Linked DNA regions of Homo sapiens. The protein of the gene in region 1 interacts with the protein of each later gene in a pairwise test. Each region holds a gene or a part of one and is shown in the gene's direction. Other genes may lie near its edges.

Region 1 (3,746 bases):
ACTGCTTTTTTTTTTAGACGGAGTCTTGCTCTGTTGCCCAGGCTGGAGTGCAGTGGTGCAATCTCGGCTCACTGCAACCTCCGCCTTCTGGCTTCAAGCGATTCTCCTGCCTCAGCCTCCCGAGTAGCTGGAATTACAGGCATGCGCCATCATGCCTGGCTAATTTTTTTTTTTTTAATTTTTAGTAGAGACGGGGTTTCACCATGTTGGCCAGGCTGGTCTTGAACTCCTGACTTCAGGCGATCCGCCCGCCTCAGCCTCCCAAAGTGCTGGGATTACAGGCGTGAGCCACCGTGCCTGGCTTTATTTGTATGACCATTTATTGGTCACTACTTTTTTGTGTAGTACTTACTTATCTCTTGTCTAATGTTTACTGGGTTGTCTGCCTATTTCTTAGTGATTTGTAGAAGTTCTATATAAATTTTGGGTATCTTCTTGTCTGTGATTGGCCTTTTCCTTCTCTTAATGATGTTTTTGATGAATAATTTTTGGAAAAGATCACTCTTTCTCCATGTCTCTGCAGAGCCACTTTGTCAAAAATCAAGCATCCAGCTACGTGTGGGTCTATTTCTAGACTCATGAATATTTAAAACATTTATTTACTTTATGCCTGAGAACAATGGGAGTGTGTGCGTGCATGTGTGTATGTGCGTGTGTACTAGAGAATGACAGTACCTTGGACTCATTCAACAAATCAGTATTTATTTATTGAGTATCCTAGTATATGCCAAAATTAGGTGACTACATTTAAAAAATTGTTACACTAGCCTTGGTACTAAATGTACTGTGTGTTGCCCACAAATTAATATTTTAAAAACTTGTACTTAGTTAAAAGATTGGATGTTCTCTGGCATAGAATGGTTAGAAAGTCAGTAAAGCCATATCTGGCCTTTTAGTCTTGCCCTTCCCCCCTCCCCTGCTTGCTGAATTAAATTACCAAGTGAAAAACCTTGGCCTCCTGTAGATAGCATAATTACTTGGCTGTTTGGATTTAAAATTATAACACAGCTAACTTTTATTGCTTTTCCATAGAATTGAAAAGGAACTTATGTGCCCCTTACTTAGCTGCCAGTGGTCAGTCAAAAGCAATAGATTGATTTCTGTCCACGGCTAGGTGATACGCAACCTGTATTTCTCTCTCTCAAATACAAGAAGTATGGTGCCTTCTAAAATATGAACATTTGTACCTCTGATGACATTACAATTATTTTGATATGAGTTGAAAACCTTAGGGAAATATCACAACTAAATTCTAGATACACTGTATCTTTTTTCCAACAATTTCCATGCTGAACTTGTATTGAGCAAGAGAATCTTGGGCATATTATCAAAATTGAAAATATTAAAATTAAAAGGGACATTTCCAGCCAAAGCCAAAAATCCTTTCTGCAGTATTTTGGACAGATGGTTGTGTGGCCCATCCTGATCCTGAGTGTCTCTAATGAATGATGAAGAGCTCACTCTTTCTGCTTTTTTTTTTTGGAGATGGAGTCTCGCTCTGTCACCCAGGCTGGAGCGCAATGGCGCCATCTCGGCTCACTGCAACCTCTGCCTCCCAGGTTCAATCGATTCTCCTGCCTCAGCCTCCTGAGTAGCTGGGATTACAGGTGTGTGCCACCACGCCTGGCTAATTTTTGTATTTTGAGTAGAATTGGGGTTTTACCATGTTGATCAGGCTGGTCTCGAACTCCTGACCTCAGTTGATCCACCCGCCTCAGCCTCCCAAAGTGCTGGGATTACAGGCGTGAGCCACCGCGCCTGGCCGCTCTTTCTGCTTTTAATGAAGCTACCTTGCCACCATCTTAGGAGGGTTTGCTGTAAATAGCCCATCATCTAATTTGTAGTGAAGCAAAGTCCTCCTTAAGAAAAAAGAAAACATATTTGAATTTGCAGCAATAAAAAAAAAAGGAATTTAATGAATCATGACCAGCTTTTTTTTTTTTTGAAAAGGAAAAAAGAAAAAGAAGAGAGTGGGGTAGAATGAAGAATTAGAGTGTATTATGCTTGAGAGGAGTTAAGTGTTGCACGGACCTTTTTGTCCTTCCTGTGTGTGCTTGTGTATGTATGTGAACTGGCCTGCACTAAAATATGCCTATTACTGTGGTTGTGCAATCAGTGTTTGAAAAACACTCATTCGAGCCATCTCCATCTTTTTTTTTTTGCGATAGGGTCTTGCTCTTTCTCCCAGGCTGGGGTGCAGTGGCAGGATCACAGCTCACAGTTCACTGCACGCAGCCTCAACCTCTCGGGCTCAAGACATCCTCCCACCTCTGTTGCCACAGTAGCTAGGACTACAGACATGCACCACCATACCCAGCTAATTTTTTAAATTATTATTTGTAGAGATGCGGTCTCACTGTATTGTCCAGACTGGGCAATTCTTATTTAAATTTAGATCTTCAGCTTCTTTCAAGGTCAGATCTCATCTCTCACCCTTCAAAGAGCCTTGTCAGCCTTTCTTAATGTATATTTTTAAATTTTTTGAGGTAAATTTCATGTAACATGAAATTAACCACTAACTATTTAAAAGTATACAATTCAGTGGTACTTGGTACATTCACACTGTTGTGCAACAACTAACACCTCTAACTAGTTTCAGAACATTTTCATCACCTCAAATCTCAATCTTTTCACCCTGGAGGAGTCTTTGAAATGATTTTGAGGTCTTAGAGAACTCCTGCATAAAAACTATATCTATAGCCCATGGTACATTAGCACAATCTGTGATAATAAATATGTAATTACATAAAAAGATGTTCAACATTATAGCTATTAGGGAAATAAGAATTAAAATCAAGATGAGATACCACTGTATACCTATTAAAATGGCTAAAATCCAAAACACAATACCAATTGCTCACATGGATTTGAAATAACAGGAATTCTCACTCATTGCTGGTGGGAATGCGAAATGGTAATTTCTTATAAAGTTAAACACACACCTGCCATATGGCCAGTTCCGAATTTATGTGAAATAAATAAATTCCCATAAATAATTCTGGGTTAAACTCAAAATAAGCACATATCAATTTCATTTTCAACTGGAATGAGAATATTGTAGCTATAATAATCCAATAATAATTGTCTTTTTAAAGTAAAAAATGGTAGTTTTCTGTGGATCTCTTGATTTCAGCCAACTTATTTACCTACTCTTTCCCTTTCTCACAAAGGGTTATCAACCCTAAAGCAAGTGGGAATGTAGAAGAGGAAACTTCAGGTTGTTTTATGGTAAAATTTTCTACTTGATTTATTTTTCCTTTTTACCTTATCCAAGTAGGCCTAAAAGTTCTCTATAGTTTCTATTATAGAGGGTGCTATTGAGGAATGATATATGGTATATGGTATGAACAAAAGTAGTTTTCTCCCCTATTAAAAACTGAAAAGGACTTTTTACCAGCTTTTTTGAGGGAAAAAAAACCCAAAACAGATAGTTAAACTTAGCTTACCTTTCTTTCCTTTCCATACATTCAAAAAACTTTTCAGTCAGCATAATATAAACATGTTAAATAATTCAAGTTATTTCTGTTTATATCTAAGATGGAATTTACTTTTTCAAAAAGTAGGCTAAGATGATTTAATTTAAATAAAGGTTGTAAACTCGTAATTAATGCTGTTTTCAACATCAAAATGTATTGACAATGTTACATAATAAAGCTACTAAAACTATATGACAAAGCATTATGAGTAAAAATATAACCTAAGATATAATTTTATACAAGACTTAAAAATTAGGTTCTTTTACTGAC
Region 2 (3,746 bases), on another chromosome or scaffold:
GTTCAAGTCAGTCATGAACCCAGCAGGATTGAGTCTAGGATGGGTGTGGCCTCAGTTTCTGAGCAGCCACCTGGCCCCCCACGCCTCGGGTCCTTCCTCCTCACCTGGCATGGTTCCCCCTCCCACAGTCCCCACCTCTCTCCCCCCACTGTCCCTGCCTGCTCCCGTTCCCTCCAACCCGGCTCAGGGGCCCTCACCTGCAGAGCTGGCTCGGTGCAGCCGCCAGCAGGGGAGGCCTGGCAGTGCAGAGACCCACTCGAGTAAGACACGTCCCCTGGATGGCCTCAGGCGGGTCCCTGTGCCTCAGTTGCCTCATCTGTAACATACCAGCACAATGCCTGGGGTTTGGTGGGAGCTCGGTTCCCCTGGTTCTGCCTGCTCTCAGGCCACCTCTGGGTTTCCAGAGGAACAGGGGATACCCCATGGTCGCCCCACTGGCCTCAGAGGCTGTCAGGCAGCAGGGATTGTGTCCCGAGAGCCTGCAGCCTCAAGGGCTGAGCTGCGCCATCACAGCCATGGTGCCCGAGTTATTTACGAGGAAGAGTGAAGCTAGGAGCTGCCGTAGCCCCAGAACCCACCAGAGACTCTGCGCCTCCCCGCTAAATGTCAGACAGCGCTTATAGGACATGACATTTAGAAAATCACCACTCTCGGCCACGCGCGTCCCTGCTTAAATGCTGTAATGAGGATTCACTCACATCACAGCGTGAATAACATCCCGGCCTGGCCCGCCACAGGCCTGGAGGTGGCCTGGGGGTGGGGTCTGTGCTGAGACCTGGGACGGCTCACCTGAGAGGGCCTCCCAGAATTGTACCTCAGAACAGCCTCGAGGGGATTTACGGCGAGGTCAGGGGCTCCCCACTGCGACTGTCCCACCGTGGGAAGCACCCAGACCTGGGTCCCAGCTGGGTGCTGGGTGACCTTGGGCATGTTCCTGAACCTCTGAGCTCAGTCTCCCATATCAATGGTTACTGGTGTTATTAGAAGTGGGCTAAGGGGGCCAGGCGTGGTGGCTCACGCCTGTAATCCCAGCACTTTGGGAGGCCGAGGCAGGCAGATCACCTGAGGTGAGGAGTTCGAGACCAGCCTGGCTAACGTGGTGAAACCCCATCTCTACTAAAAATACAAAAAATAGCTGGGCGTGGTGGCGCACACCTGTAATCCCAGCTACTCGGGAGACTGAGGCAGGAGAATTGCTTGAACCCAGGAGGTGGAGGTTGCAGTGAGCTGAGATCACGCCACTGCACTCCAGCCTGGGCGACAGAGGGAGACTCCATCTCAAAAAAAAAAAGAAGTGGGCTAAGGACTTGGGCTTTCTAGGTGGGAGGCCTGGGGCTGAGCTGTGTTTCTGCCTCTTTCTACGTGGCCCTCAGTTTCGTTTCCCTGTCTGTAAGATGGGCCTAGCCCTCCCTCTTAGGCCCGGCATGGTGGCCACACCCTGCAGGTGGTCTGAAAGTGCTGGCCCAGCTCCTTTCCTCCACCCATGCCCCTTTCCAGGCCAGTGTGTCCTGGTCAGTTCCCAGCTTCCCAGCACCAGAGCAGCTGCCCTGACCAGCAGGCCCACAGCGCCGCCTCTGCCTGCTTTGGGGAAAGGTGGTTGCTTTGAAGCAAAAAGCCCCTGCACAAAAAGCTGGTATGCAGGTAGCTGGTGAAGAAGTCCTGCCCCACAGGCATGGGCCTGGCACCTGAGAGCCACCCCCGTCTCTAGCTGAGCCGTGGCTGTCACATGCTCTGGGCCTGCCCTCTCCAGGACCTTCTGTTACTTACAGCTCACTCAGTGTGGCCGGGGACCTTTAGTTTTTGTTTTCTTCCTGGAGCACTAAATATGTTTTCCCAGGCAGTGAAGCAGACTGATGCCCGTTGGAACTGGGGTTCCTTTTGAGTGCGTCAAGCCCATTTCCTCAAGGTTCTCGCCGCGTTTGTTAAGAATTCCAGTGCACTGAGATCTGCTGGTTCCGAGGAGATGGGGGCAGCTGTGATTTAACCACCACGTGTGTCCTGGGTGCCACCCTCCTGGGCCAGGCTGGGGCTGGGGACAGGGAGAGTCCACACCCATTTCAGTCTTGCAAGGAGTGCCCTGTGGAGGGGGTGTCCAGGAGGTTCTGGAAAAATGCAGTTGAGGGCCACTTTCAGCATATTTGAGCTGGGTGTCCATGCAGCAAAGCCATCCGGACATGCCAGGCCTGCCTGGCCCTCACGGAGCTTGCTGGGTTGGGACAGGGTGGCTGCAGAGTGCCATTCAGGCAGAAGTAGAGGCGTGGACACAGCACTCTTGGTTCTGGGCTTATTGTTTGCTCAGTGGCTCAATCCCCCCCCCCCGCCCCTGCCAGGCACCAGTTACCCACTGGGGAAAGGACAGAGGCAGTGCCCTGTGGCCACCCACCTCCAAGCCCGCTCACCCGGGCCTATCCCTCTGCTTGTCTCCCCCACTGCAGTACTTTAAGAAGCAGAAGCGGCTCATCCCGGAGAGGACAGTATGGAAGTACTTTGTGCAGCTGTGCAGCGCCGTGGAGCACATGCATTCACGCCGGGTGATGCACCGAGGTACGTGCCACCCGCCAGGAGCCGCCCGGAGCCACCTGGAGCCCAGGAAGACACTTCCTCATGGCTCCTCCAGGGTCCTCAGGGGCAGCCCCTTGAGGAAGTTGGACCGCTCTGTATTCCCCAGGCAAGGGGGCTGCCCAGCAACCGCGCACACACACGCGCCCGGGTCAGGAACCTCCCCGAGGTGGAAAGTGACATGAGCCCCAGGGGGCAGGGGCCCCGCTTGGCACACCACTTCCAGTTCCCCACAGCAGCCTGGGAGGGAGGTCGAGGAAGCCTCGCACAGAGGGGACTTTCATGGGGGCTTTGCCGTCTCAGCGGGCTGGGCTGAGAAGGGGAGGCACCTGAGAGGGGTGTTTCCACAGTTGACATGATTCCGAGTTGTGAGAAAGGAGCCTGCTGGGTGCCCGGCAGGGCACGAGGTCCTTTACGTAGGCTGCTTCATGGACACCTCCGTTCCTTCACTCTACCTGTATCTCTTGGTGTCTGCTGTATTGGAGGCCCCGCCCTCACTGGGGGGTACGGCACTGGGTGCTCCACTGAGCACTCCGTTCATTCATTACGCAGATTTTCCCTGAGGGCCTCCTGTGTGCGAGGCACTGTTCTAGGCATGGAGGATACAGCTCTAGAGCAGGAAACAGGAGCACAGAAACCCCTGCTGTCTTAACCCTCACAGCAGCTCTGTCAAGTTGGTGGAGGGAGACCCATTTTTCATATGAAGAAACTGAGGCTCAGAAATGGTCAATTTCCCGAGGTCCCACAGCCAGAGCCAGGACAGGGCCTTGCCCTGAGGGAGCAGGACCTGGGCTAGGCCTCACCTTCCTCCCCCTTCCTCTCGTCCTGCCCCACCTACCCCAAGCCTCCTACCCCACACCAATCTCCTTCTCCTCGCCCTGCAGACATCAAGCCTGCCAACGTGTTCATCACAGCCACGGGCGTCGTGAAGCTCGGTGACCTTGGTCTGGGCCGCTTCTTCAGCTCTGAGACCACCGCAGCCCACTCCCTAGGTAAGGGGGACCTGTCTGTGCCCCAGCAGCCCCCAGCGGTCCTGGTGACCATGCAGGGAGACGCAAACATTCTCCCCACGTGTGTTTGGTCAGTTAGTGCAGGAAGATGCCTTTTTTAAGCCCCAGGGTTTTCTCATCTGTTCAGAATAGTGACCCAGAAGGGAATCAGCTGTGGCCAGAGGAGCCCAGCTGGGG

Evidence for each region.
Region 2: the proteins of EFHC2 (region 1) and NEK6 interact in binary tests that used the Homo sapiens proteins (3 or more experiments, as listed by UniProt).

Annotation. Positions count from the first base shown.
Region 1 is NC_000023.11:44,336,927-44,340,672, reverse strand, and holds part of EFHC2 (EF-hand domain-containing family member C2), read left to right. Parts: intron 1-3,746. UniProt on the Homo sapiens protein: Microtubule inner protein (MIP) part of the dynein-decorated doublet microtubules (DMTs) in cilia axoneme, which is required for motile cilia beating.
Region 2 is NC_000009.12:124,323,895-124,327,640, forward strand, and holds part of NEK6 (serine/threonine-protein kinase Nek6), read left to right. Parts: intron 1-2,435; coding exon 2,436-2,544; intron 2,545-3,443; coding exon 3,444-3,551; intron 3,552-3,746. UniProt on the Homo sapiens protein: Protein kinase which plays an important role in mitotic cell cycle progression. Required for chromosome segregation at metaphase-anaphase transition, robust mitotic spindle formation and cytokinesis.